7 separate regions of the Homo sapiens genome follow, and regions 1, 2, 3, 5, 6 and 7 are each linked to region 4. Evidence: fine-mapped expression QTL. A gene starts in region 4. Each other region holds a variant in brackets. All regions are shown on one strand. Distances are between the middles of the regions.

What was found.
Region 1: its variant is fine-mapped to the expression of OAT in blood mononuclear cells (TOPMed, PIP above 0.99).
Region 2: its variant is fine-mapped to the expression of OAT in whole blood (TOPMed, PIP above 0.99).
Region 3: its variant is fine-mapped to the expression of OAT in whole blood (TOPMed, PIP above 0.99).
Region 5: its variant is fine-mapped to the expression of OAT in lung (TOPMed, PIP 0.99). The same link has a PIP of 0.9 or more in whole blood.
Region 6: its variant is fine-mapped to the expression of OAT in whole blood (INTERVAL, PIP above 0.99).
Region 7: its variant is fine-mapped to the expression of OAT in whole blood (TOPMed, PIP above 0.99).

What each region holds. Positions count from the first base shown.
Region 1 is chr10:124,367,782-124,371,883 of GRCh38, forward strand. No RefSeq gene overlaps it. Among named protein-coding and RNA genes, the nearest start is that of OAT, 49 kb to the right of the region's middle. The variant G/A (reference allele first, on the strand shown) is at 1,784.
Region 2 is chr10:124,492,170-124,496,345 of GRCh38, forward strand. The region is part of intron 3 of LHPP (phospholysine phosphohistidine inorganic pyrophosphate phosphatase); the gene reads left to right. Among named protein-coding and RNA genes, the nearest start is that of LHPP, 32 kb to the left of the region's middle. RefSeq lists enhancers at 3,031-3,608, 3,609-4,176. The variant C/T (reference allele first, on the strand shown) is at 2,014.
Region 3 is chr10:124,209,067-124,213,242 of GRCh38, forward strand. No RefSeq gene overlaps it. Among named protein-coding and RNA genes, the nearest start is that of CHST15, 120 kb to the left of the region's middle. The variant G/A (reference allele first, on the strand shown) is at 1,976.
Region 4 is chr10:124,416,655-124,420,778 of GRCh38, forward strand. OAT (ornithine aminotransferase) reads right to left here and starts at 2,269. Exons shown (of 10, transcript NM_000274.4): 1 at 2,219-2,269. RefSeq lists silencers at 1,829-2,368, 2,311-2,970 and an enhancer at 2,944-3,458.
Region 5 is chr10:124,393,802-124,397,945 of GRCh38, forward strand. It overlaps OAT (ornithine aminotransferase), which reads right to left. Exons shown (of 10, transcript NM_000274.4): 10 at 3,502-4,144. The coding sequence ends at 4,141. Among named protein-coding and RNA genes, the nearest start is that of OAT, 23 kb to the right of the region's middle. The variant G/A (reference allele first, on the strand shown) is at 2,275.
Region 6 is chr10:124,279,266-124,283,441 of GRCh38, forward strand. No RefSeq gene overlaps it. Among named protein-coding and RNA genes, the nearest start is that of OAT, 140 kb to the right of the region's middle. The variant C/T (reference allele first, on the strand shown) is at 2,560.
Region 7 is chr10:124,376,105-124,380,280 of GRCh38, forward strand. No RefSeq gene overlaps it. Among named protein-coding and RNA genes, the nearest start is that of OAT, 41 kb to the right of the region's middle. RefSeq lists an enhancer at 3,212-3,929. The variant T/C (reference allele first, on the strand shown) is at 2,005.

The sequences.
Region 1 (4,102 bases), 49 kb before region 4:
TGAGGGCATCAGAAGTCCAGTCCCACCTGCCAGGCCCTCCATGGCCTGCCCTGTGTCATGGTCAAAGCCCCTCCTTACTGGGAATTAGGGCTTTATTTGAGCTGGGAATGAGGCCAAGGAAGATGGTGAAACAGGGAGAAAAGCAGCACCCAGTGGGAGAATGTCGCTTCCGAGGACAGGAATCAAGGGACACGAGGCTGACGGAGGAAATCTGCACAGGAAGGGGTGGAAGGTACTGAACAGTGTAAACCAGAAGCCCCCGCCCAGCCCTGGAAGCCCGAGACAGCACTGCTTGACTCCAGGGCCAAGCCCAGCAGGCCGGGCCAGGGGAGGTCTCCCCGAGGACCACAGCCTGGGGCAGAGACACGGGAGCCCTAATTAGGGGCTTGCAAAGGGCTTAGCCTCGGGACTACACAAAGCCCCGGAGCTGGGCCGCGGGAGCCCCAGCCTGTGTCGGGACAGACTTAACGGCCTGGGCTGGAGTCGCCAGCAACATAAAGTATTCTTGTTCCCAGCGATTTTAACAAGGCATTTATGGACCCGAGACAACCTCAGGACAGCACTTGGTTGAAGGAGCTGGCTGCCCAGACAATCAGGGCACAGAGTCAGGTCAGCACAAGGGCCCAGTGATCAAGGCCAGAAAGGCAGGAGAACTGAGGGGCCATTCACCCCATGGTGCAGGGATGGCCCCTCCCCAACCCTGTTAAAACGCAGCCAGTTGGGCTTAACCCTGGGGGGCCTTCACCTTCATAGAGGTGGGGAGGGGGCGGAGACACACTGGAACCAGATTCCCAGGCCTGGGACACCCACCACCAACACCAACATCAATTTCAAACATAGCCACAGTAGACACTAAAGCACTGGGGGCCAGGTCCCTGAGTCACTGCCCCCAGTAGCACCAAGCACCCTGGGAATATCTTGGGCTCCCCAAGACTGCCCCGCTGTTCCCATCAGCCTGTGCACTTCATCACAGAGCAATTAATCTGTTGTCCTGGTTTTTGCTCATCAAAGTGGCCATAACCAGGGTCCAGTGTAGCGAGATGAGCCCTCCTGTTGATGCAGTTCCAACCCAGTTATGTTGCCCAGGGTGGTCTCAAACTCCTGGGCTCAAGCAGTCCTCCTGCTTTGGCCTCCCAAAGTGCTGGGATTACAGGCATGAGCCTGCCCTATTGTTATTAATAACAGTGACAGCTACTACATATCCAACATTTATTAAGTGGTTTAGAGAATTATGTTTTTCCCTCACAAATAACCTATGAGAGAAGAATGTTGATATCTATAGAAAGCTGAGACACAGGGAGGTTAAGAAACTTACTGACGGTGCAACCTTAGGCAGATAGTGGCACCAGGTCTAAAACATGGGCCTCATTGGCAGCCAGTGACCACATGCCTGGTCACTGGGCAGGAGCCTGTCGACAGGGTGGGTTTGTGTGAGCTGGCAGAAACAGCTTTGGACTTGGAATAGGGACACCCTGGTTCCACTGAGCTCTGACACTCACTTTACAACCTCTGGACATCTCCATGAAATGGGGACGCAGACCCTTTCCCTCCACTTCCCAGGGCAGTGAGGGGGATTGGAGAGGCTGAGCCAGGGGAAGGGCTTTGCTGGCAGTGGTATCCAAATAATGGCCCCCAAAAATGCCCAGTCCTAATGCCTGGAACTGAGCCTATGTGACCGATATAGTTCGGCTGTGTCCTCACCCAAATCTCATCTTGAATTGTAGCTCCCATAATTCCCACATGTCCTGGGAAGGACCTGGTGGGAGGTAACTGCATCATGGAG[G/A]TGGGTCTTTCCCATGCTGTTCTCGTGATAGTGAATAAGTCTCATGAGATCTGATGGTTTTATAAAGGGGAGTTCCCCTGCACAAGCTCTCTTGTCGGCTGTCATGTAAGATGTGTCCTTTGCGCCTCATTTGCCTTCTGCCATGATCATGAGGCCTCCCCAACCACGTGGAGCTGTGAATCCATTAAGCCTCTTTCCTTTATAAATTACCCAGTTTCAGGTATGTCTTTATTAGCAGCATGAGACCAGACTAATACAGTGTCCTTATATGGTAAAAGGGACTTCACAGGTGTGATTACATTAAGGATCTTGACATGGAAGATTATCCTGGATTATTATTCAGGGGCCCAATGTGATCACAGGGGTCCTTATAAGAGAGAAGAGTTGGGGCTCAGAGGCAGAGAAGGAGATACGACCACAGGAGCAGAGGCCAGAGAGATGCTCTTTGAGGACACAGGAAGAGGCCAGGGGCCAAGGCCAGGGCAGCCTCTGGAAGCTGGAAAAGGCAGGAAACAGACTGTCTCCTCGAGCCTCTAGAAGGAACCAGCCCTCTGATACCTTGATGTTAGTCCGGTGAGACAGATTTGGACTTCTGACCTCCAGAGCTATAAGATAATTAATCTGTGTTGTGTTACATCACCAACTTTGTGGTAATTTGCCATGGAAGCCACAATGAACTCATAGAGTGGCTCAAACACCCATTCATTTGGGAGCAATTCCATCCACAACTGTGAACTCTGCGGATTTCACAGAAGTGTCTGCTTTGGTCCGGGCAAAATGATTACAAATTCTACTCTTGCAGAACAGAAAAGAGGCTTCAGATAATTCTGTTCTACTTCCTGCAGAGGGTTTAAAGAGTAGGAGCTGAAAACTATATAACTACTGTAAACGACACCAGACTCTTCCTGCTGCCCCCAAATCAAACATATTTTCTTCTCGGAGAGTGATTTTAAGGTGTTTTCTGACAAAACCAGCCCTATTCAGGTGGAGGCCGCTGCCCACCACCAAATCACCCCATGTGCCCATGGACTCTGCCACTGGCCAGGGCCAGGCTGAAATCACAGCTCAGGGAAAGGAGCCACACTGGCCAGGCAGGGCAGCCAAGGGCTCCAGGCTTTGACAGGATCGAGGGTTCGAGGCTGCGGGGCAGGGAGCATCCCAAGAGCTGTGAATATAACAAGTCATCTGTGCACACAGGATGCTGCCCTCTTATATTAATAAACCTGACGGAAATTGTATAGGCTGTGGAAGGAATCAGAGGCAAGCAGACGCTTCCTCATCAAACTGCGCACACAACAGAAAACGGAGTCCACGTGGATGTTCCCAAACCAGGGGAGACTGTCAGTGCTTGACCATAGGGTTTGTCCTTCTCCACCAGGGTCCAAGCACAGGTGGACTTGGTAAGCAGAGCCTCGACAGACCTGCCCGCATACTGACACCCCTGCCAGGGAAGCCCCTCAGTGCAGCGGGGGGCAAAGCGAAAACGGGAAGTATCAAGATGAGGATTCCAGTCCCTGCTGTGAGCCAAGGCCGTTTCTGGGCCTCAGTTTCCCCAGCCACAGCCAGAATCAGCTGGGGTACGTGACCCAACCTGAAGGTCTGGGCTTCCCTACCCAGGTCCCCAGGCTCAGGACTAGCTCCACCTCTCTCTGCTCACCTCCTCACAGATGTGGCCCCAGCCCAAGCCAGAGCTTCCCCAGCTCTCCCCACTCCCTGCTTCCTCTACCCCAGATTCTGAAAATGGAAGCTCCTTTCTGCTTGAGGCTCTCCAGCTCCTCCTTGCTCCTCCATCTCCTGGAAGTCCCCCCAAACTTGAACTTGTTTCTTCACCAATGGCCAAAGGAAACTTGATTCCTAACTCTCCTCATCCCTGGGCTTTGCTCCCTCTTCTTTGTTTTCTTTGGAATCTTTGCCCTCTGTCTTAGTTCGGGTTCCCCCGAAGACAACCAGAGCTAAGAACTTGGATGCAGGTAGTTTATTTGGGAGGCAGCCCAGGAAGCACAGGGAAGATGGAAAAGCAGAGAGGGTGATGGGGGTTGAATCATGTCCCACAGAAAGATGTGTCAAGTCCTGACCCCGGTACTTGTGAATGTGACCTATTTGGAGATAGGGTCTTTGCAGTAATTAAGGGTTAATGTCTGATATGGTTTGGCTGTGTCCCCACCCAAATCTCGACTTGAATTGTAGCTCCCATAATCCCCACGTGTCGTGGGAGGGACCCAGTGGGAGGTAATTGAATCGTGGGGGGCGGGTTTTTCCTGTGCTCTTCTCTTGATAGTGAATAAGTCTCAAGATCTGACGGTTTTGTGAAGGGCAGTT
Region 2 (4,176 bases), 76 kb after region 4:
TCGTGTGCCATTTGTTGTTTTTTTCAAAGTAGAGAAGTACTTCTTCACGCTGTGTCTCTATCAAAAATGGACAAGTGAAAGATGTTTCAAGAAATGAAAAGATTTTTTTAGTGACAAAAAATTTCTAGTATGTTTCTCATATAAATAAAATGTGTCCTGTATGTAGTCAGGGTTCCTCAGAGAAGCCCGAAGCTACAGGATATAGATATGTAGAGAGATTGTGGAGGCTTGGCGAGTCCAAAATCTGCAGGGCAGGGCTGGCAGGCTAGGGACTCAGGAATGCGCGCAGCAGAGTCGTAAGGCTGTGTGCTGGTGGGATTCTTGCTCGGGGAAGGTCAGTCTTTGTTCTTGTAAAGCCTGCAACTGGTTGGATGTGGTCCACCCACATTGCGGAAGGGAATGTACTCTCCTCCTAGTTCACCGATTTAAATGTTAATCTCATCCAAAAACACCTTCACAGAAACATCCAGAATAATGTTTGACCACATATCTGGGCACCGTGGCCCAGCCAAGTTGACATATTAAATTAACCCTTGTAGTCCCTTTTTAAACTTACACCCATTGCAATTTAGGTCGCTGCTATGGAGCAAGCCACAGAACCTGGCCTCTTAACTCATTTACCCGGGCTGACCCATTAGGCCTTTGAGTCACCAACACCTCACTAGAGAACAAGCATAATGAAGAAGCTCTGCTGTAATTCGTTAATGTTAACACTTTTTTCTTTAAAGATGTCTCATGCTGAGCTTCGTGGCACACGCCTATAATCCCAGCACTTTGGGAGGCTGAGATGAGAGGATGGCTTGAGCTCAGAGGTTCGAGACCAGCCTGGGCAGCATAGTAAGATTCCGTCTCTACAAAAAAGAAAAGAAAAAAAGTTGTCTCATAATTATTAAAAACCACTATTCCAGATCATGGATAATAATAGTCAGAACAGGTATATTGTTGAAAAAGAAAAAAAAAAACCGGAAGCAGTCGCTTTCAGCTTTGTAATACCGCAGCAAATGTCATAGTAGACAAGGGTTTTTTTAAAGTAGGAGATTAGTGGCGTCTCTGCTGATGGGGGTTCTGGGTGTTTAAAAACCAGAGAAAGGAACCGGCGGTTTTAGGGACTAGGTCCCAGCTTCTCAGGACAGCCTGAGGACCCCCCGAGAGCTGCCATCACCATGCCGTCCTCGGCTGTGGGTCACTGCTGGTGAGGTCCATCCTGCACTGCGGGACACAGGGGCACAGGCTGAGCGGTGCCCACCAAGGAGGCAGGAGCAGCGGGTGGAGGCGCCGGGGCAGACTGTCCCTCTCCTGGAAATGGAGTGATTTACATTTGGCATCTGTTTGGACCCCAGAGTGGGAATTGGCTTTGTAATTTCTTCTGTCATGCCGCTCTCAGAAAATTAAGCTGTTTACCCGACAGACTATGGAAGGTTAACGGCTCTTCTGGGAAAGGTCAAGTGGTCATTTGCAGGGAGGCTGTGCTGAATAATCTGAAACGGCAGAAGAATAAAGCATAAAATCGCATCTGACTCCTCCTCCCGGGCTTCCCCCTTTCTTTCCAGCATCCACGGGTTCCTCTTTGTGGCTAGAACATTCACGTCCTAAGTGGGGCTGCCGTTGGCTGGGTTAAACCAGTAACCAGTAACAGGAGAAATACGTCGCATCTCTAGTGTGTGGAGATTACCGGGCCTTTATATTAAAAAAAAATTTTAAGTGCTTATATTTGCTCTGTCTCTAAAAAATGTTTCCAGGTAACAGTTGGCCTCAAGATGCCTTTTTGTTTTTCTGAATGAATAAGGAATAAAGAAAAATTCTGGGCACTATAAAATCAAGCCCAGATTCAGTTTTTTAAAAAATAAACGTTAAAGTTTCTCATTTTGATTTCTGGAAGTTCGTGTTCTCCTTGGACTCTAAAGATTAGCATGCAAAGACAAGGTTTTGATTGTGTATTTTCAGTTGCACGTTCAGTTTTTTTAAAATCCCATCCAGGACTAAATTTAAACATAAGAAAATCCAGGTTTCTTT[C/T]GCTTTCGAAGAGGCTGCAGGGAACTTGAGGCCAGAGGAAGTGGCGCCGCGTGGGTCCCCTTAGGAGGTTTTGCCAGATGATGGGAGGTGCTTGCTCCCGTCCACCCAACCTCTAGCTCCTCCAGCCGGCCCCAGGGTAGCTGAGGGACAGGGGTCTGGGCCCAGAAGCCCCCAGAATCCTCAGCTCCAAACAGAGCTGTACCTGTCGCAATGGAGTAGTTTTGTTGATTTCAGGTTTTCTTTTGTTGCTGGGTAAGCATTTCCTGTGTGGGGTATATTCTTTCCTCCGTCCTGGCTTACTTCCACACATCACTTCATTAGGGAGGCCCTCCCTACCCACCTCGATGCCCTCCTTCTCCTGGCACAGGTGGGCAGGAGGGGACGAGGGTCATGGCCTTTGAGGGCCTGCAGAGGGCCTTGCCTGTGGTGGCGTGGCCACCCTGGTCCTCAGCAGGGTGCTCAGTGGATTCCAAGGTGCTCCCTGGACCCGGACCTCCCCTTCACTTCCTTTTAGCTCAGGTCTCAGCTTTCCATGCCTCTGCTGCCTCCCTGAACCCAGCCTGTCCCCCGCCCTGTTCAAGCAGACTGCCCCTCCCCTGGGTCCTGCCCTTTAAAGTTTGTCTGTGGGCTTCTTTGCTTCCCCACCAGACTGTGAGTCCCTGTGGAGCAGGCTGGGGCTGGGAGTATCCCTGAGTCCTGCAAAGGGCTGTGGAGCATCTGGGATCGTTAATGCCAAGGGGGACCAAGGTAACCTGGGCCATTTGCAGCACCAGCCAGTGCAGGCCCCAGGACCCGGTGTCCCCTCACTGTTTCCTGAGAACTCTGGACCCCACTAAGGAAACCATCAGACCAAAGTAGCTGATTGTCCAACTGGGAAAAAGAAAAAGCAGTACTTTTTTAGGCCATGTAAATGCAAAATATACATTTGAAGTCTGCGTTTAAGACATGAACTTAGAGATTTCTAAGCCTGTTTTTGGGGGTCACTCTAAAAGGGAGGGCATTTTCAGGTCCCCCCTCTGTGAGCATTCACAGCATCCCAGCCAGCCTGTATCCCTGTGCCGTGACCCCAGAGCACAGAGCCTCAGAGGCTGTGGAACAGGCCTGGGGTTCACGTGGAGAGTCCCAAGCCCACGTCATGACAGGAGATGCCCACACCTTCAACAAACAGACTCCAAGCTCCAAAGCTGCCTAACAGGAGTGGCAGGGGGACCAGCCCTGGCAAGGCCCAGGTTTGGCTGAAGCCCGTACCTGCAGCCCAGCTTGTAAGTTTAGCCGGGAAGCATCTGAGGCAGGCAGTGGAGGACGCACAGGGGTGAGCGGTTCATCTCACAGGTGTGGCTGGGTGCCTGCTACAGCTTCAAGGCATCAGGTGGGGCAGAAAGGGACAGGCAGGGTGCCCAGGAGTGGCGGAGCTGGAGGAAGGGCACAGCCCCAGGGCAGCTCCCGAGGAGCTCAGTTCTCACACCCCAGGTGGTCACAGAACACATTTCAGCCCCCAAATTGAACAGGGCTGTGTTCATTTTTTCCTTCCCCCAGCTCATCTTATTGCTTGTGTCAGCCTGGGTGAAAGGTTATTTATAATAATATTCTCCTGTCTCATCTGGGCAGCTTCTGCATGGAAGGTACCGAGTTAATAACTTTGCATGCGTTATTTTGTTCAAGCTTCACAGCAATCCGTGAGGTAGGTATTGTTTGTTGTTCGTTTTGCCCATTTTACAGATTAGGAAACTGAGGCCCACAGGCGTAAGCAACCCAAAGTCACACCGTTAGAAGGCAGTGAGATCTGAATGCTCAAGTCAGCATGCGCTCTTCTTCCCTCTCGTTTTCTGCATACGTGCTTTCTCCACGTCTCCCATATCGTAAGGGCATGGCAGGAGGAGAGGGAAACTGATGTGATGGTGGATGGCAAAACATTTTAGTGGTTCCAAGAATCAAGCCCCCTTGTGTATTCTTGGCTTTCAATGAACTGCGTCTTCAGAGCAGCGCAGGTTAAACCACTTTCTCGCCTCATTGTAGTCAATTGGCTTAGTTCAGCCAGAGCCAGGTCTGGCCCACCATGTGTCTGGACTGTGAGTGCCTTGAGGCTCAGTGTGACGCGATCGTAGGGTGAGCCTGGCCGGGCTGCAGCCAGCCACCAAGCCAGCCCTGGGCTCAAAGAGCAGT
Region 3 (4,176 bases), 210 kb before region 4:
AGCTGTAGCACAATAGCTCTAGCTCCAGAGGGCCATATGGCAATGACAATATAAGGATTGCTAACTGTCACTAGCTGCTATCAAAATTCTGAAGGAAAAAGATGACAGGCTCAGGCCAGCCATCTAGCTACTCAGGACAAGGTGCAAAAGTTAGGTGTCCTCCAGAACAGCATTAGAGCTATCCTTACCCTGCACAGCCAGGGGCAGACTGTGTTGAAAATCAGGCTAAGAATCTGATGGTGGAGGAGCAGAGTTACAGAGGCTGGATTCATGGCCCCAGCAAGCTTCCTATGCTGAAGCCAAGGCCATGATAAGGAAGAAGTGGGTCCTAGAAACCTAGAGTTGGGGCACGTGGGAGGGAGGAACTTAATCCTGCATATGCTCCTGAGCTTTTGGGGCCAGCAGAGGTAGTGCCCTCCTCTTTGCCCCCTTCTCCAGGGAGACCACGCAGAGCCTCATTTGACTCAGGTGCCTTGTGCAATGATGCTTGCCCTTATCAGTAGTTGCCCCCTCCCCTCACGGCTTCTAGACTGATAGTGAAGCCCAAGGCTCAGGGGTTCAACTGGGAAGCACCGACCTGCTCTGGGAGGAGAGGGCTATCTCACTGTGGTGGTGTAGGACCTGGCAGAATGAACCAACATGAACAAGGAGGACATGTCTAGGAGCATATAATGAAGGCATTGGGCCAGGAGGGGGTAAGCGTAATGCTGGATAAAGGAGAGTTTATCAATGTGGAGCACCGTCCCATGACTTGGGATCTAACATCATGGTACGGACACTCAGAGATGGTCTTAATAACCCACTGGGACTGCTGCTTGAGGCTTAGGAAAAACTGGGGAGGAGATGTGGGAACTGGCTTGGTGGAGAGTCTAGGAATGGGTTACAAGGCTCCCAGAGGGGAGCCCACTAGACTAGATTAATTATGTAAGATGAAAGAACCAGCCTTAACTAAAGCGATAATGAGAGGAGTGCTTCGTTCCTGAGAGGTTCAGTAGTGGTGGCCCACCATAGGCCAGGGTGGATGGTAGGGGTGCTGTGATGGAACCAGGTTCTCCAGCATCTGTGGAAATGCTTGGATTCTGGAATCACAGGGGCCAGCTGGCAGCACTTAACCATCAGAAGTAGGAGATGATGTATTAACAGCAGGCAGCAAGGATGGAATGGCAAACAGGGGGCTTTGACCCACAGAGACCTGTGGGGAGGGCTAATAGACCACTGCACTCCTGAGGACAGGCCAGATGGGCAGCCGATGAGGGTACTGCTCAAATTCTAAAACCAAAAAGACCAAGAGCAGGTGTGCAGAAGCCTGCTGTCAGCCACTGCAATGGAGACTTGTGGTCTCTCACCTGCTCTGTAGACCTAAACCAGAGCCCATTGATTGTAGGAGAGGCCAGATGTCTGTGGCAGGTGATGTCAATGCTCCAACCATATCCCCTCACCCATACCCCTGTGGTGTACACTGGCCAACTTCCAAGGCCTTTCATTCCTCCAGGGCTTCCTCTGCTCACCAGAATCTGCTTTATTATTGTCTACTCCACATGCCTGGAGTACCACAGAATTATCAAGTGCAGGAGGGGTGGGAAATAAACCCCACAAAGAGTCAGGGGCCTGGCACATCAGTGAAGCTGCCAGTTCAAGAACTACCTGTTGTGCCTTGAAAAAAAAAAAAAAAAAAAAAAAAAAAGATAGAGGCACAATACTTGACAGGCCTTCCTAGAATCTGGAGACATCCCACATCTGGGAATAGTGTTCTAGCACATTTACTGGGTGGGGCAAATGGCTGCCAGTTTGAGTGGGTCCCAGAGTAAGAGAGGAGTCTACAGCAGGTTTAGGCTGTGGATTAAGTGGCTCTGCTATGTGGGCCAGTGATCTGGCACATTCCATGGTGCTGGAAGTACCCATGGTAGATGAGGAAGCAGGATGGAGCCTTTGGAAAGCCTCCTTTTTTAAGTTTCTGTTTGTTTTAAAAGAACTA[G/A]GACCAGCCACCACCTTGAAGAATCAGTGACAGATAAAACAAACCTAACATGAGGCCCAAGAGGATCTGAGCAGTGCAAGGGGTGGACTGTAGCAGATGCTTTTGGTGTCCCCAAAGAAATAGAACTAATTAGAGATATAAACATCTATACATTGACAGAGAGAGAGAGATTGTAGCAAAACCACCATGATGATAATGTTTGACTCCTGCAGACCAAGGTGTTCCACAGCAAGGCCTTTAAACAATGCCCATAGCATAGATAGCCGCTCATAAAGATACCGTCTAACCTCCCCAGTGGACAAGAGTTTTGCAAGAAAGTCTGAGGCATGACCAGCTGCACATGTTTTACCCTAAAAGCTTGCTATAGGAGGGATATTTTCTGGAGGGTGGGTGCAGGAATCCACTGTCTCTCAGCCATCTGAGACATCACTTCTGTTCATAAGGCCCTATTAAATGTTTCTTTCTGAGAAATTGGATTTGTCAGCCTCTTTCTTCAGCCTCTCAGCTCCCTTGGCCTTTGGGGATAGGTTTGCATAGACCTGCTCACCATGGCACAGAGATTTATTTTAAGGAATTGGCCCATATGCTTGTGGGGGTTGGCAAGTACAAAATTTATAGGATAGGCCAGCAGGCTGGAATCTTGGGCAGGTGTACTGATGGTGCGAACTTCCAAATGCATTGGAAGTATGGAGTCTGAAACCTGCAGGGCAGGCCAACAGACTGCAAGGTCAGGCAGGAGTTAATGCTTCAATCTTGTGGCCAAATTTCTTCTTCAGGTAACCTCAGGTTTTGCTCTTAAGGCCCTCTGCTGATTGGATGAGATCCACCCACATTATCAAGTATAATTTCCTTTACTTAAAGCCAACTGATTGTATGTGTTAACTACATCTACCAAATACCTTCGCAGAAACGCCTAGATTAGTGTTTAATAACCTGGTGCCGTTCCCTGGTGAAGCTGACACATGAAACTAACCATAATGGACCCTGCCCTCCACCCTCCATGTCTGTGGCATTCACGTCTACCTCTACATGTCAACAGTTGCTAACCTCAGACACTTGGGATGTTCTGCCTGCATTAGTCAGCTCCAGCTGCCAGAACAAAATACCGCAGACTGGGTGGCTAAGATGATAAATATTTATTTCTCACCATTCTAGAGGCTAGGGAGTCCAACGTCATGGTACCAGCCAATTTGGTTCCCGGCAAGGGCCCATTTCCCGGTTCACAAATGACACCTTTCTGTGTCCTCACATGCTAGAGAGAGAGCAAGAGGGCTCTCCCATCTCTTTTTGTGAGGTCACTAATCCCGGGACAAGGGTTCCACCCTCATGACCTAATCACCCCAAAGTCCCCACCCCCTAATACCATCACCCTGGGATCAGGCCTTCAACATATGAATGTGGGGGGTATGCAAACACGCAGTTTATAATCCTTCCTTCCTCTGCCTTTCTTTCTTTTTTTTTTTTTTTTTTTTTTTTTTTTTTTTTTGAGATAGTCTCTCTCTGTCGCCCAGGCTGGAGTGCAGTGGTGCTATCTTGGCTCACTGCAACCTCTGCCTCCCGGGCTCAAGCAATTCTCCTGCCTCAGCCTCCCAAGTAGCTGGGAATACAGGCGCCCACCATCGCGCCTGGCTAATTTTTGTACTTTTAGTAGAGACAGGGTTTCGCCATGTTGACCAAGCTGGTCTTGAACTCCTGACCTCAGGTGATCCACCAGCCTCTGAAAGTGCTGGGATTACAGGTATGAACCATCGTGCCCGGCCCTTCCTCTGCCTTTCTCTTCTACTCAGTTCTTCAACGGATCAGCTGACACCCACTCGCACTGGAGAGGGCAGTCAACTTCACTGAGGCCACTGATTCCAGTGCTGAGCTCAGCCTGAAACACCCACAACAGACACACCCAGAAATAATGCTTAGCCAAATACCGGGGCAGTCTGTGACCCGGCCACATTAACACATAAACTTAACCATCCCAGGCCAGGCACCGTGGCTCACGCCTGTAATCCCAGGACTTTGGGAGGCCAAGGCAGGAGGATCACATGAAGCCAGGAGTTCAAGACCAGCCTGGCCGACATGGTGAAACTCCATCTCTACTAAAAATACAAAAACTAGGTGGGTCTGGTGGCACATGCCTGTAATTCCAGCTACTCAGGAGACTGAGGCAGGAGAATCATTTGAACCTGGGAGACAAAGCTTGCAGTGAG
Region 4 (4,124 bases):
AACATACCTACAGTAGAATTTCCACAAAAGGCTGCATTTTGAAGTTAATTTAGCCTATACTCTTAAAAACTATTTTCTTACTCTAAAAGAATAGTCGGCGTAAAGTTGTCCAAAAGCCACTTAAAATATTCAACTTGAGGAGTAAATTTGTTCTTGCTATTTTGACAAATATTTACTTTTCCTGAGGTAACCATTCACAAATACAGGCCTTTAAAAAAAAAAAAAAAAAAAAGTTCTACCAACAGAAGTCTCTTTGACGTAATCAGTATTCTGGCTAAAATTCAAGCCAAGTGCATCATTGGCAAACAACTAGTTTTACTACTGAGAAAGGACCGGGGTCAACTACAGCACATCCTCCACACACATCCAAATTCGTGCATTCATCACTATTTGTAAATGTTTGAGATTTGAAAGGTCCTCAAGAACTCACTAAAGGGCATAAAATATGCACACAAATAACTGTAATAAAGGCACGCTATGGGGATAATACATATTAAGACAGCTGCTTTGAGGGAAAAATGTCTTTTAAAAATGTTTACTATTTAAAGTTATACTGGATTTTTCTTTGGGGGGGGGATGCAAAACTAATCTTAAACACCATGAAAAACTGTAAACCCAAAACTATAAGCTTTTTTTTTTTTTTTTTTTTTTTTCGAGACGGAGTCTGTCGCCCAGGCTGGAGTGCAGTGGCACGATCTCAACTCACTGCAAGCTCTGCCTCCCGGGTTCAAGCAATTCTCCTGCCTCAGCCTCCCGAGTAGCTGGGATTACAGGCGCGCACCACGATGTCTGGCTAATTTTTGTATTTTTAGTAGAGAAAGGGTTTCACCATGTTGGCCAGGCTAGTCTCAAACTCCTGGCCTCAGGTGATCCGCCTGCCTGGGCCTCCCATAATACTGGGATTACACAGGTGTGAGCCACCGTGCCGGGCTAAAAATAAGCTTTTTAATTTAACGCTCGTTTTTATGAAAAGATTCATCTAAAGACAGAACCAGGATATTCTAATGAAAGGAGTCTATTGTTATTTCACATGGCTAAGAGCGATTGATTACAATCTAAAGAACAGTTCCGGGGTTAACTGAAAGAACTAGCTTATCCACAGAAACCCTTTCAATCCCAGAAGGAGAAATTTAGAATTTGGAAACTGAACATTAGTCATTTCTTAAGGTAAAGCCACTTCATTCCAAAGTCACTGTCTGTTCGCCCTTAATTTATCACCGTAATTTATCTAAGAGGTAAAACTGAACACCGAAAAGGTAAGATGTAGAGTGACAAAAGGAGACGGTGGGTCACAGGGCGAGTGCCCAGGTGACTTCGGGCCTCAGTCCTCTCGCCAGCAAAGGGCGGACAATGACCCCTCCCGTCCCGCCCGGGAAGGCGATCGAGGAAACGCACTGGCCAGGCCCATTTACTGATGCTCAGCAGGGTTTGCAAAAAGCCCCCAACGGGAGGTTTTCATGCTGAAAGTCCTGTTGCCCCCCCATCCCCCACCATCTAATTAACCTGCACGTTACTGTAAGGAAGGTTCTGCTTCCGTAATTTTCTTTATTTCGACAGAGGCTGGAGAAAAAAAATCATAGGCTGGAAGAGGGGAGCGATGGGCAGGCCGATCTGCAGGGCGCAGGAGCAGGCCGGGAGGACCCAGCCCTCCAAGGCTGCATCAGCGCCCCCGCCGCGTGACCAGGGCCACCGGTTTACTGCACAGCTCCCCCGTCCCCAGAACGCAGCCTCCCCGCCAACCCCAGGAACCAAGGGTGCCCAAAGGCCTCCTACCCGGAACCCCGGGGCGCCTCGGGGTCTCTGGGCCGGGTGGGCCGAGTCCTGGCCTCCACAGGCCGCGAGCGCAGGGGGCGGCGGCTCCGCCCGGTCTGGCAGGCGGGGCTGCCACATCCTCAGCCTCTCCCTGCCGCCCGCCCGTCGGCCGCTCTGGGCTGGAACCAGGACTCCGGCCTGCAAGCCGTGGGTCGCCACGCCCCTGCCCCCTGAAGCTGCGCGCCGGCCGGAGACTCCAGGGCGCCCGGGTCCGAGCCGCCCGCAGAGTAAACGGGCCGCTGAAGCGGGGCTCGTTCCCCGGCCGAGGCCCAGCGCGCCCCCTCAGCCAGCATCCCCCGAACCCGGGCCGCGGCCACCCCGCGCCCGCCCGCCTCCCCCGCCGCTGTCAGGGAACCCCGGCCAGGGCCCGAACCAGAGCCCCAGGACAGCGGCGCCCAGACGGTACCTGACAGCGCCTGAGGACAACCGGGTACACGCGGCGTCTATGAAGCGCAACAGTGACGCCGGAGAGTCACTGCAACTTAAAGGCTGATTCTGCCCCGCCCCCAAGACACCCTCGCCGCTCATTGGCTGGGGCGGAGGGCAGGATACCAATCGCGTGGGTCCCGTCCTCCGCCCCGCCCTCCGGCCGCGCATCAAGGATCTTTGCTCCTCCCGCGGATTCGATCCGCGCTCGCGCCTCCTGAGCCCGCCGGCCTGTACCTGAGCTCAGGCCCCTCGGTCGCCTCCTCTGGCGGGACGAGAAGAGTCCTTGTCCGCCCTTGCTGACGAGAAGACTGAGGCCCGAAAAGGAAAAGTCTGTTGGGCCCCCCACTGCGCGGGCCGGGTGTGGCTGGAGGCCGAGAGACGTGAGGCTGGACCGCCCGCCCTGTGCTCCTGGAGGGAGGGACCAGCCCCAGCTCTGCCCCAGCCACAGCTGCGGGAGCCCCATGCCCTTGAACCCTGATGCGCCGCGCGGCTTAGTTGTGCCTCTGAATCCACCTCCAAAAGTCGTCGCTGCCTATGGAAAACACACTGCCCACCTGTTCGCAGCTGCTGTCAGATAATTGAGTGGCAGCAACCCACTCACAGTACAGATTTGCCTGTGGTGCCCTCCACAGCCGGTTATTAAATTCAGAACACAAAATAGATATTCCGGGACAACCTCATGTTAGAATCGGAAGGGACTTGGACTTCACTTAGCCCACAACAAGATGTTAAATATTGGAAAACAGAGACCCAGAGAAGGAAAGCGACTTACCCAGTCATCCAACAGTAGGGGCAGTCTGGTCCTGTGTGCCCCTCGCCACCCCTCTCAGAGGGCAGGCGCTGGCAGCTGCCGGCACCACACTCCATTAGACCACAATGACCAGTCGGGGGCCCAGCTGGAAACAGAGGGCACACTCCAATGTGAACATTTCCTAAAACGTGGTGGTGGGGGCCCGTGGTTCATGCCTGTAATCCCAGCACTTTGGCAGACCGAGGCAGGAGGATTGCTTGATCCCAGGAGTTCCAGACCAGCCTGGGCGACACAGTGAGACCCCGTCTCCACAAAAAAAAATAAAAATTAATCTGGTGTGGTGGCACACCTATGTTCCCAGCTACTCCAAAGGCTGAGGTGGGAGGATCACTTGAGCCCAGGAGGTTGAGGCTGCAGTGACCTATGACTGCACCACTGCACTCCAGCCTGGGCAACAAAGCAAGACCATCTATCTTAATCAACCAATCAATCAATCAATGTAGGCAAGTAAACCACAAGGGATGGAGAAATAACCTGGGTCTCATGCACCAGCGAGGGCCATTATCCATCCTAGGCCCAACGGCCTCCAAGTGGGGTTTCCAGAATTCCAGAACCCAAAGAGAGGAGTGTGGGAAAGGCTATCTGGTCACCAAAGTCATCAGCAACTGCATGGGAAGGAGCTGGACAATGAGCATCTCCTGTCAGGCTTCCACATGGGCTGAAGCCATTAGGAGGCCAGAGGCCAGGGGAGCCCTTTAAGACAGCTCAGCCTCCTGGGACAAACAGCAGGGTGGAAAAGGGTGGAGACGGGGTAGGGGAGCAATTGGAAGACATCCAACATACATAACTGGCTAAGATAAGTCTTAGCTAAGCAGAAAGTAAAGTCCATGCTAAATGGTAGGGATAAGAAAGTGATATGGGTGCAGAGCTGTGAACAGCAGAGCCAGTATCTGCAGATGTGCAGAGCAAGACACCAAAAGGGATTCAGTCCCCCTGGGCTCCATCTGCCCTATACCAAGGTCACTCTCTCAGACTGTTGTGGCCATGGGCTCTCCAGAACTCACTGAGAGCAGAACATTGCCTTTTATTTCTTTCATGTTCCTCCACAGCACCCAATACAATGTGATTAACT
Region 5 (4,144 bases), 23 kb before region 4:
AGAATCCTTCTCCCGAAGCTTCCTCTCTCCCAAACTCCTCCAACTGTATGTGTTGGGGGTGGGGAGGGGGAGCTAGCAACTTATTTATTGATCTGTAATTCTGTGCCAGGTCCTCCACCAGGAGCTTGACCTACTCCATCTTTTTTAATCCTCCTAACTCCCCTGAAAGGTAGATAGCATCCCACTTCCTCACAGCTAAGGAAAGGGAGTATCTAACCACAGCAGTTGCCCTGATGTTCTACCCCAAATCCAAAGCCTGTGTCTGACTCTCCCTGCCTCCCGCTTCACCACCCCTCCACTTCATCCCCAGGGCACTAAGTGCCGTCAGCAGGTTCCTGCCCACCTGTTCACCACTGGACATAGGCCCTGAGGCCCTACAACCAGTGTGTACTGCATGAGTAAGCCCTAAACCATCAGCCAGAAAGGATTTTCTTTTGTTTGTTCCTTTTTGAGACAGAGTTTCGCTCTGTTGCCCAGGCTGGAGCGCAATGGTGCAATCTCTGATCACTGCAACCTCTGCCTTCTAGGTTCAAGTGATTCTCCTGCCTCAGCCTCCCGAGTAGCTGGGATTACAGGAATGCACCACCACGCCTGGCTAATTTTTTGTATTTTTAGTGGAGATGGGGTTTCTCCACGTTGGTCAGGCTGGTCTCAAACTCCCGACCTCAGGTGATTCGCCCACCTCAGCCTCCCAAAGTGCTGGGATTACAGGCATGAGCCACCGCACCCAGCCTAGGATTTTCTAATAGGATCACGCCACGCCCCTGCTTCAACCCCTTTCTTCAGTGACCCCACTGCTCACCAAATTAAGCCCAAAGGCCCTCATTGTCATTGGCCACCGTCTCCACAACTCCCTGTACTTTCCTACCTCTGGGTCCTCTCTGACTTTTAAAGCCTTCAAAGAATTTAGCAGGAAGATAGCTTTGTTAAAAATCACCTGCCCTAAGGTCATCTCTGGTGAGAATAACTGAATGCAAATTAAACTGACTCATCATAATAATAGTATGTCCTAAGGCAACCTGCAAATGTGGAATCTCCAGTACACACACACAGAGAGAGACTGAATTAGAATCTGCATCTTAAGGCTGGGCACTGTGGTTCACACCTATAATCCCAGCACTTTGGGAGTCCAAGGCAGGTGGACCACTTGAGCTAAGGAGTTCAAGACCACCCTGGGAAACATGGCAAAACCCTGTCTCTACCAAAAATACAAACCAATTAGCCAAATCTGGTGGCACACGGCCATGGTCCTAGCTAGTAGAGAGGTTGAAGTGGGAGAATCGCTTGAGCCTGGGAGGTGGAAGTTGCAGTGAACCGAGATCATACCACTTCACTCCAACCTAGGTGACAGTGAGACTATGTCTCCAAAACAAAAATCTGCATCTTAATAAGATTCCTAAGACAGGTTCTCAACCTTGAATGCCCTGGAGAGCTTACCTGGCCTGGGTGCCACCCCAGTTGTAATTGGTATGAGGAGGCCTCCCAGTAACTGCTCACTCATTTAAACGTAGTCATTCAGTGACAGAGCACTACCCTGACAGAGTACCAAAGACTCAACTCTCATACTGCTAAGAGGTAACTTTTTAGAACCTGGGGGAGGCAGGGAGCAATGTGACACAATTAACTTGAGTTTTTTTTCTTTGAAAAGCAAGTCACTTCTAGGGATTTACTCCATAGAAACACTGTGCACTTTTGCACCATTGTGAAAAGATATGAAGTGGTCACAAGTTTTATTCAAGTCAAATGGTCCCAATATGAGATGAAATTACAGTATACCCATATATGATGAAATACTAATTATTTGAGAATAAGACGGAAAAACATCCAAAATACTCTGTTCAGGTAAAAAAAAAAAAAAAGAAAGAAAGAAAAAAGAAAAAGTTGCAGAACACCACATATAAAAAGGATAACTTTAAAAAAATGATAAATATTAGTATATGCACAGAGAACGCGCTACTTTGAAAGGGAAGTATGAGACCTATCTTTTAGATGTATTCTTTTTATAACTTCTAGTTTTCTGTAGATCAGAGTTGAAATGCTGTTAGAAAACACATGGAATATGCCGGGCACAGTGGCTCATACCTGTAATCCCAGCACTTTAGGAGGCCGAGGTGGGTGGATCACCTGAGGTCAGGAGTTCGAGACCAGCCTGACCAACATGGTGAAACCCCATCTGTACTAAAAATACAAAAATTAGCTGGGCATGGTGGTGTAGGCCTATTGTCCCAGCTACTTGGGAGGCTGAGGCACAAGAATCATTTGAACCTGGGAGGC[G/A]GAGGTTGCAGTGAGCTGAGATCACGCCATTGCATTCCAGCCTAGGCAACAGAGCAAGACTCTGTCTCAAAAAAAAAAAAGGAATACAAAAAAAAGAAAACACATGGAATAAATAAATCTCAAAAAGCTTAAAAATGTAACTGATAGGCTGGGCGCAGTGGCTCACGCCTGTAATCCCAGCACTTTGGGAGGCCGAGGCAGGTGGATCACAAAGTCAGGAGATCAAGACCATCCTGGCTAACACAGTGAAACCCCATCTCTACTAAAAATACAAAAAATTAGCCGGGCGTGGTGGCGGGCATCTATAGTCCTAGCTACTGGGGAGGCTGAGGCAGGAGAATGGCGTGAACACAGGACACGGAGCTTGCAGTGAGCCGAGATTGCGCCACTGCACTCCAGCCTGGGCAACAGAGCAAGACTCCATCTCAAAAAAAAAAAAAAATGTAACTGATAACACTGCAGTAATAGCATAGTGACATGGGGAATAAAGAAATCTTGTAACTGAAGAACGTGAGCCCCTTTAAATTATCAGGCCCAGGCCAGGCACAGGGGCTGATGCCTGTAATCCCAGCACTTTAGGAGGCCAAGTTGGGGGGATCGCCTGAGGCCAGAAGTTCAAGACCAGCCTGGTCAACTTAATGAAACCCTATCTTTACTAAAAATACTAAAATTAGCTGGGTGTGGTGGTGCACACCTGTAATCCCAGCTATTCGGGAGGCCGAGACAGGAGAATCATGTGAGCCCAGGAGGTGGAGGTTGCAGTGAGCTGAGATCGTGCCACTGCACTGCAGCCTGGGCGACAGAGAGAGACTCCATCTCAAAAAATAAAAACTAAATTATCAGGCCCAGAGAGGCAATAGAATGAAATCATAGTCAGGTCACTCTCTCCCAAGCTACATAATTACCTCTTGAAGCCAAGTATCTATCAAATGCCATATACCCTGTAGTTCAACAGCATATAGCCAATCACTAACCAAGGTTAGTTCTGTAAGCCAATGAGAATTCCTGATAAACAACTTTTGTAATCACCCCTTCACCTTGTGTCAGTAGAGGGTATAAGAGCAGCTGATCTATCCTTTTTTCTTTAAGAAGTGTTCTCTGGAGCACTCTCCAGGGCAACCTGGAAGTGTGTCCCGAGCTGCAGTCCCCAACCTTGGCCCACCTAAACATTCTATATTAATTTTGCCTCAGCTTCTTCCTTTTAAGGTGAATAATCATCACAAAACAGACATTTGAAATATAAGCTTTATTTTAAATTTAAAGAAGTATTGAAAATAAACATTTTTTACAAATTATAATCAAGCACTCAAAACAATTTAGGAATGTTAAACACTAATTCTTAATTCAAAATAATGACATCCATAGAATACAACCCTGGTGTTGGCCAATATGAAGTTTACTTAATATTAGTATTTTATATACACTTAACCATTAATCCTTCCTAAAATTCAATAACAATGATTTCACTTTATAAGATGAAGCCTTTTATGCAATACCCAGAGATAACTTTTTCAAATATGAAACACTTATACCAGTGAGGAAATTATAAAAACATATATCAATTATACTGAAGGACTTGATTTAGAGGCTGTCTGTATATAGATGCATTTCACCTTAGGAAGTACACATGCACATCAAAACACTTCAACTGAATATAGATGCCATTACATTATTTAGTTACGTTACAAAGCAAACGGCAGGTTCATAAACGTTGTTCTATTATGTATCAACTGAAAAAAATATATTCAAAAAAAAAGTTTTTGAAGACTCATGGGAGTGGAATGTGCCCACATTAGGAATAAAGCTTTTACAGGACCACCTGTCTCCAGCTGGCTCCCAGGGACCACTGAAAACAGCTGGCTACCCTCAG
Region 6 (4,176 bases), 140 kb before region 4:
AGTAGTGGGACTATGCATGATTTTCATTTCCTTGTTTAGACTTACTTGTGTTTTCATAATTTTCTACAATAAGTATGTATTACTTTTACAATCAGAAAAGAGACTCTTTTGGGAAGATTTACTTTCCCTGAATGGTGATGGTATTAAGCTTCCTCCCCATACCTAAGTGGCAGAATAGGGTGAAAGATGGAGCATAAGCCAGGGCCCTATGTGCACAGGGCAGCTAAACAGTGCCCCTGGAGACTGAAGGAGAGAAGATCAGGCCTCAGGCCACTGATGGTCCCTATTATGCCCACGAAAAGACACAGCCCTGTCTGTGGAGACACCATGAGCACACAGCTCGGCAAACAGACATGGCCTGTGTTAACCTAGAATATGGTGCCCCATCTCTGGACAGACACAGCCCCAATTCAGGATGCACTGCCAGCCAGCACAGCAGGAGCCAGACTTCAGCCCCACTCACCTCCTCAGCCAGGGGCCTTTGTTCTTGCCTCACCAGTCCTTACCTACCTCGAGAGACCCCCAGCTAGATGGGCTTCAGACCCTGAGTGTGAGCCAACTGGGCAAAACTTGAGTTCCAGGCATGAGGAGCTCACACATCATCTCCCCGTGGCTCTTGGGTCCCCACTCCTGCCCCGTGGGCAGCCATTAGAAATGGCCTCATTCATAGAAAAGGACACACCCATTAAGTGGCTGACCTCAAGCCAAAAAGCAAGGAAGCAAAGGGCCAGAGCTTGCAGACCAGTCTCTGAGTCGTGCTCCAGGGTGCTCTGCACTCTGAGCTGGACTCATGCCTGTATCTGACCTCGGATGACAATCCTCACTTGCGTGTCCTGCCCCTCGCCACCCAAGCACGTGCCTGGCTCTGTCTGCAGGGCTTCACTGACTCTGCGTCAGACCCACACTTCTTGCTTCCTCCTGTTTCTTGCTTCCTCCATGCAGAGGACAAGTTGCAATTGGGTGGGCTGCTCAGCCATTCACTGTCTGACATGTCCCGAGTGTTTATGTGCACCTCTGTGCCAGGTGCAATGTGAGCTTTTCACACTTGTCATTTCAGGTTCATCCTCAGCAGGCATTATTAGCCCTAATTTGTCAAGGAGAAAGCTGAGCCTCAGGAAAGGCAATGAATTTTCTGAGGCCACACAGCCAGGAAGGGCAGGGCTGGGCTGGGAATTGAATCTCGTCTGACTAGTGCACGATACCTCATCATGTTTGTTCCACAGGAAGAAAACGAAAATTAGAAACAAGGCTGTGTTAGAAAACTCACGTATTGGGCAGGCGCAGCGGCTCACGCTTGTAATCCCAGCACTTTGGGAGGCTGAGGTGGGCGGATCACCAGGTCAGGAGATCGAGACCATCCTGGCTAATACGGTGAAACCCCATCTCTACTAAAAATACAAAAAATTAGCCAGGCGTGGTGGCGGGTACCTGTAGTCCCAGCTACTCAGGAGGCTGAGGCAGGAGAATGGCGTGAACCCAGGAGGCGGAGCTTGCAGTGAGCCGAGATCACGCCACTGCACTCCAGCCTGGGCAACAGTGCGAGACACTGTCTCAAAAAAAGAAAGAAAACCCACGTGTTTTATTGCACTTGTGAATGACATGTAATAATTCAAAAGCAAACTCAAGTGGATGGAAAATTCCAGCTGGCTTGTGTTTCCAGGGACTGGGAGAACTGAGGAGACTAACCTGAGCACCAGGACATGGGGACCTGAGACTGTCCTGCCACCGCCAGCAAGGAGTTGCTGGCAAAGAACCCTCTGTGGCTCCAGGCTGGGCGACCTGGACTCTTAGGTTACGGAGATAGGAAAGGTCACCCCAACAGAGGATATGGCTTTTGGAACACACAGCAGCCTTGGTACGGCCGGGCCACTCCCCTGGCCACTCCAGCCTTGCCCCATCCACAGGAAGAGCTGCCAAACCTCCTGGGATGCAGACCCAGCAGCTGAGGTGCCCATGGCCTGGCTGAGGCAGAGAGGCAGTGTCCCTCCCTGAAGGCACTGGCAGGGGCTCTGAGAGAAAGGGGGTCCCTGTCATTTCATTGTTTGAGTGAATGAAAAATGTCTGGTGACCTAGCATGGCAAGAGGAGGTCAGGTACCCTTCGTACAGCCTTAGAGATGATCTCCCAAATGGCACCGCCATCTTGGCCTCCCAGTATGCAGTGGGCTGGGAAATGGCCATGGGCGCAGCCTGGGTGCCCTGAGGGAGGACAGGGAAGTGAGGAGGAAGGGAGGAGAGGTGAATTGTAAAGTACAGACCATGTCAGGTGTTTCTGTCCACGTTATCCCATTGACCTTCCCGCAACCCTGGGCAGTGGGCATTCCTGTTCTCCCTGTTTTCTAGAAGAGGAAACTGTGACCCTGAGACAGGACGAGGCCTTCCCAAGACCACACAGCCAGTGGGAACTGGGCCTAAATACAGGGCCCTGAGGGGAGGGGATGCTCCTTTCCCAGCAAGCCCACGCTCCATTCTGAAGAAAGATTTCCAAATTCCCTCAGGGAGGATCTTCAGATATGCTGAGCCTGCCCTTGAAAGACACTGTTCAGGCTTTACTCAGCCAT[C/T]CCAGTGCCCCCACGGACCCTGCTTCTCGGCTATTTCCTGGTGCGGGGCCCATGCCGGGTCAGTGACCCCAGAACAATCCACAGCAGCCACCCACCCCTCCAGAGGACTCGGCTTACGGGTGTCAGGTGCAGGCAAAGGCATGGGCAACGGCTTCCAGCCAGGAGTCACTGTACTAAGTTGTTCTTGCGTTGCTATAAAGAAATATCCGAGACTGGGTAATTTAGAAGAAAAGAGATGTCATTGGCTCATGGTTCTGCAGGCTGTACAGGAAGCATAGCAGCATCTGCTTCTGGAGAGGCCTCAGGGAGCTTCTAATCATGGCGCAAGGCAAAGGAGGAGGAGGCACTTCACATAGCAAGAACGGGAGCAAGAGAGAGAGAGTGGGGGGGGACGTGCCACACACCTTTAAATGCCCACATCGCAGGTGAACTCAGAGCGAGAACCCACTCATCATCAAGGGGATGGCCCAAGCCATTCATGAGGGATCCACTCCCAGATTCAAACACCTCCCACCAGGCCCCACCTCCAACACTGGGGATCACATTTCAACAGAAGACTTGGAGGGAACCAGCATCCAAACTATATCAATCACTAGGTCCATCTTCCAGCTAGAGAGAGGAGGCCGGGGTTCGCCACAGCAGTGCCGTGCCGCCCCAGGGAGGCCCAAGCCCTCGCAGGATCCCCCGCGCCACAGGCCCTCAGTGGCCAGTGCTATCACACGCCCTGCACAGCCATTCCCTCAGGCCCCCTGTGTTCTCCCACGCCTCTAGGTTTTGAAAGGCAACTGCAAGTTCATTTTTTAGAAGCCCGTGGACTGCTGTATCTCTGAGGATTTGATAAGAGGAGCTAAAGCCACATGACCCTTATTTGGTGAACTCTGACTCGCTAAAGGAATGCAATGCCCTTCCATGGGTCACACTTCCACGGCCTCTCTTAGCGAGCTCTGAGGGGTGCTACAGTGACGTTCAGAGCTCGGTACCTGGCCCCTGAAGTCATAGCAAAGCCCAGTTCTCTGCTGTCCAGGAAAGCACTGGCTCCCTAACGGAGCTCACCTGGAAGCAGGTACTGGGCTGTCTGCATGCAGTATTGCTGGACATCCTGCAATGACCCTATGAGGTAGGTACTAATGATTATTTCCATTATATAGATAAGGAAACTGAGTCATAGAGAGGGGCCAAGTACTTGCCCAAGGAACTCAGCAAGCCAGGATTGTGCCCCCAGCAGTCAGAGCCTGTGAACTTAACACCTGGGCTCTGGTACTTCCTGGTGCCCTTAGAGATGAGCCAAGGAGGCTCAGAAAGAGATTGGCTGCCCGACTTCTCCCAACTAGCCAGTGACCACGCTGGACCTGGGACCTGCGTTCCCTTCTAGATGAAGATCTGGGGAGTACAAAGGAAGAATGAGGGGTACAAGGTCATCAGCAACACAGACCTGGCAAAGAACCTAGTGTCCCATTTGTGAAGCCTCATAACAGCCCCATCAGAGGAAGCTGAAAACTCAAAAGGCACCAGGTAAACTCTAAGCCAGTACACCTTGGCTCATGTGTAAGGGGGCAATTTGCAGAGGCAAGGTCCTATCACCAATGGGCTAACCTGCAGGGAGGCAGAGGATGTGAG
Region 7 (4,176 bases), 41 kb before region 4:
CTGAGGTCTGGACTTTGAGACCAGCCTGGCCAAAAGTGGTAAAACCCCATCTCTACTAAAAATACAAAAATTAGCTGGGTGTAGTGGCTGGTGCCTGTAATCCCAGCTACTCAGGAGGCTGAGGCAGGAGAATCACTTGAACCCAGGAGGCAGAGGTTGCAGTAAGCCGGGATCGCGCCATTGCACTCCAGCCTGGGCTACAAGAGAAACTCCGTCTCAAAAAATAAAAATAAAAAAAATAAAGATGGTGTCTGGGACAGAGACTTCCTGGAGATGGGAAGAGGGGGTCGAGTACCATGACCCAGGTGGGTGAACCTCAGCAAATGAGGGAACAGAGTCCTTTCTCCACAGACACTCACACCGGCAGCACATCCGTCCGCTCCCTAGGTCTGACACTGCTGTAAGACCACCTTGCCTTCCGGTGCCCTTAGAGCCCCTCCACTCGGGTTCTGTGTGGCCAAGTTAGTTCCTCCCAGCACCCCGGGCTTCCCCCGCTTCTCCCAAAGGTGATGTTAATAAAGACATCACATCACATCTTTTCCTCCTTCCAGATGACAGTACACAAGCCGGACGGAAGGTAGAGGATGGGGTAAGGAGCTGGGGGAAATGCTGTCATTTCCCCACAGTCATTCCTGCAGGTTTTTGGACAGGAGAAAGGCTTGTTATTATAGAGCCATCAGAGCCATCAGCCTCCTTCTGCAGGTGGGCGGAAGTCAAGTCCGTTTGAGGCCTCCATCCCCTTGGCCCATTCACCATTCAAATCCTCCCGAGAGTGCCCGCCAGTGGCAGACAAAGCCCGATGGAGTCTCAAGAACTAGGATCCTCTCCTGCCCTGACCCCTACCCCATTATCCCAGGCGAGATTACAGATTTGTGAACTTCAGTATAAAGAAATTTTTTGAAAATTCCACTTCAAAGAGCCAGTGGGTCTTCAGCCCCCACCTCTGGGCACAACCTCCAAGGGGTGGCAGTTGGTGTCTCTCCCAGCCCCTGAGTCCCTGTAGGGGTTGTTCACAGAGGTTGTGCCTGAGTTTTCTCTCATGCACGAAAGACCCTACAGAAGCCTTGGAAGACTGTGGCTCTGCCCCTTTCTTTGAGATCTTCTGGGGTCTCCAAGGGACAAGAGTGCATGGGGTTCCCTGCCAGTAGCTCCCCTTCCTCTCGGGTGCCAGGCTTTGTCTCGGAGGTAGCCCGGCTGTTGGCACCAAGTAGGCCCCCCACACTGTGCCATCTTTTGGAGTGAAGACCGCATGGGGGTAGCACTCCAGTCCTCGAGACCACCTTCCTCGTGCCCTTTTCTCAACTCTTCTCTCCCCCTTCTTCCAGCACAGCACCCACCTTGTTCCCCCTTAAATCAGCTGAGTGTTTATGGGCACCGGCTGCAGGTCCAGCACCTGCTCTGGGGATTGATGGTTTAGAAAATGAATAAAGGGAGGTGGGGAAAGAAGATGGCAGTGGGAGCACCCAGCCCTGTCCTGCTTCTTTGCAGAAGTGGTCGGAGAGTCCCCTAGAGTCAGGAAGAATGCCGTTGGTGGACCATGAGCTCCCCCAGGGCTGGGACTGTGCCTCGTCACCTTTGTGTGGCCAGCGCTGACTTGGCTCCCAGGCTTCCATTTGCACACATGTGAAATGGGCCTCATAATGCTTCCTTCTCAAGGCTGTTGTGAGACTTAGATACAATGCTGCATGGCAAACGTCCAGCACAGAGTGCTTGTGGCAGTGCCCTCTCAGCGCGGGAGGACAATGTTGGGCAAACTTGCTGGGCCACACGTACACAGCGGTGCTAATGGCAGTGCCTGCCTTGGGATCCCGGGAGGATGAAGTGGAATGCTGATGATGGCGAGGACCATTCTGGAACCTAGCACTTCAGCACCCAGTGAATGTGATTCAGAGATGGTGTGGGGAGCCAGGTGCACACTTGTAATTCCACCTACTCAGGAGGCTGAGGCAGGAGGATCACTTGAGGCCAGGAGTTCGAGACCAGCCTGGGCAACATAGCAAGATC[T/C]CTGTCTCAAAAAGGAAGAAAGGAAAGAGAGAAAGAGAGGGAGGGAGGGAGGGAGGGAGGAAGGAAGGGAGGGAGGGAGGGAGGGGATGCAGAGGGCAGGGGAAGGGAAGAATAACTGGGCACTGGGCTTGTCCTCTTGAAGACTGCCAACTCCTGCCCGCCCAACACAGCCTAGCCCCAGAATGTTTATTGCAAACCTGGTGGCGTGGAAACGCAGATGCCATTTGGGGAAAGAATCAGCCTTCACGGGAGGGAGAATGCAGTGAGGAGGGATGGAGGAGGCCTGAGTCCAAGAAGGAAGAAGGTTATGTAGACGAGGTCAGATGGAAAAGGGTCAGGACAGATGCAAAGAAGATGCTGGGTGTGGCCAGTGGTGCTGACGCCCCTCTTGGCCCACCCAGGCTCACCAGGGGCAGGTGGACAGTACACCTGCCCACCCACGCAGCATGAGGGCCTGTCTGCTCGACATCTGCAGAGCCAAGGGTGGCCAAGAATGTTACCCTTCAAGTAACCATGGAAGGTAAGTTAACTTCAGTCCTCCCAGACTCCATGGTGCCCACAGTGCCCAATTTTGGAAGGATAGTTATGCAAGGATATGGACAGAAGGCCCGGAAAGAAAGCTGCAAGCCATCTTCAGGAGCTCTATCTGCCAGACGGGATTATGGATGATTCTACCCTCCTTCTGTGTATTTTTCTATTATTAAGAGGTTTTCAAGGAACATGTATTACTTTTATATCAATTTTCCTTCAGCCCCTAGTTCACTCCAAGCAGATCTACTTGATGGGCAAAGCCACAGCCGAGGGAGTCTGAGCTGGGCAAGGCCCGCCCATTGGCACCCGGAGGTATTCCGTAGGCAACCAACGAGGCTGCTTCTCTTGGCCTTTCTGACACCGAGGGCGTACCTGAGGCTTGAAACTTCCAAGAGGTTTAGTCATCAATCTCTAGCCTCCCGCTGGCTGTTCCCGATTGTCAGCAGAGATCTCAGCGTGGGGAGCTGGCAGGCAGGCATCCCTCATTCAGGAGGCATTTGCCAAGAACGGTGAGGGGGGAGTGTCTCGCCCCCTTTAAGTATCAAAAATCCCAGGCGCTGTGTGTACAATCCCCTCCCTGGCCTTTCCAAGGGTGGCAGGAGTCCTAGTCCAGTGAAAAGACTGTTGAAGAGGGAGGAGATTCCCTGCTGCTGAGAAGGCCTTGCAGGGAGCAACAGGCTTGCCCCAGGGGCCGCTGGTGCCAGCCAGGACGGCCCATAGTGGATCCAGCTTCTCCCCCAGTCCATTCAGTTCCACAGCACAGGCCGTGGAGGGCCTGCCCAGCCCCCTCACTGCAGGAGTGCAGATGAGTGGCAGGTGGCCATCCAGTGCCTCCTGGCCCTCGGCTTGGGGACCAAAGGGGTTTCCCATAGCTCAGTGCACGTGCCCCACTCTAAGAGCCAGATTCACAGCAGGTATCCAGGAAGGTTTATAATTGGGTACCTTCCAACTGATATTCTTCATCTATTTGTTCAAACGTATTTGTCGATTGCAGGAAGGAACCAGTGCTGCCTCCACTGTGTGGAGGGTAAAGGCTTGATGACATGGGGCTTTCCAGCCCGGCAACTGCCATTGAGGCACTTTGAGAGGCTGTTGATTTCTCTCCACTTCCCAGAGCCTTGCACGGTGATGGGGGCGGGGTCTTTTTACATTTTGCCAATTCGGCTTATTTTCTGTGGTGCTGTTGTGTCCTCAAAGGTTGAGGTCCCGGGGAATTTTGCCTGGCTGGCTCCCTTCAATCTACTCTGCCCACTCTGCAGCCAAGCAGAAGCAGCCATGTCCCACCACCAACCCCTGGGCCTGACTCCCTTTCCCTTGAGGGTCACACTCCTCCCAGGCTGCAAGGCCTGATTTAATGGCACCTCCTCCCTGCTCCTCCCGACTCCCCTGCTCCTCCCCTGACTCCCCAGCTCTTCCCCACCTCCTCTGTGCTCTTCTCCTGACTCCCCATCTTCTCCGTGAGCCTCCCCTGACTCCCCAGCTCTTCCCCATCTCCTCCATGCTCCTCCCCTGACTCCCTGTGTCCTCTGTGCTCCTCCCGACTTCCCAGATCCTCCCCATCTCCTCGGTGCTCCTCTCCTGACTCCTCAGCTCCTCCGTGCTCCTCCCCTAACTCTCCAGCTCTTCCACGTTCCTCCTCTG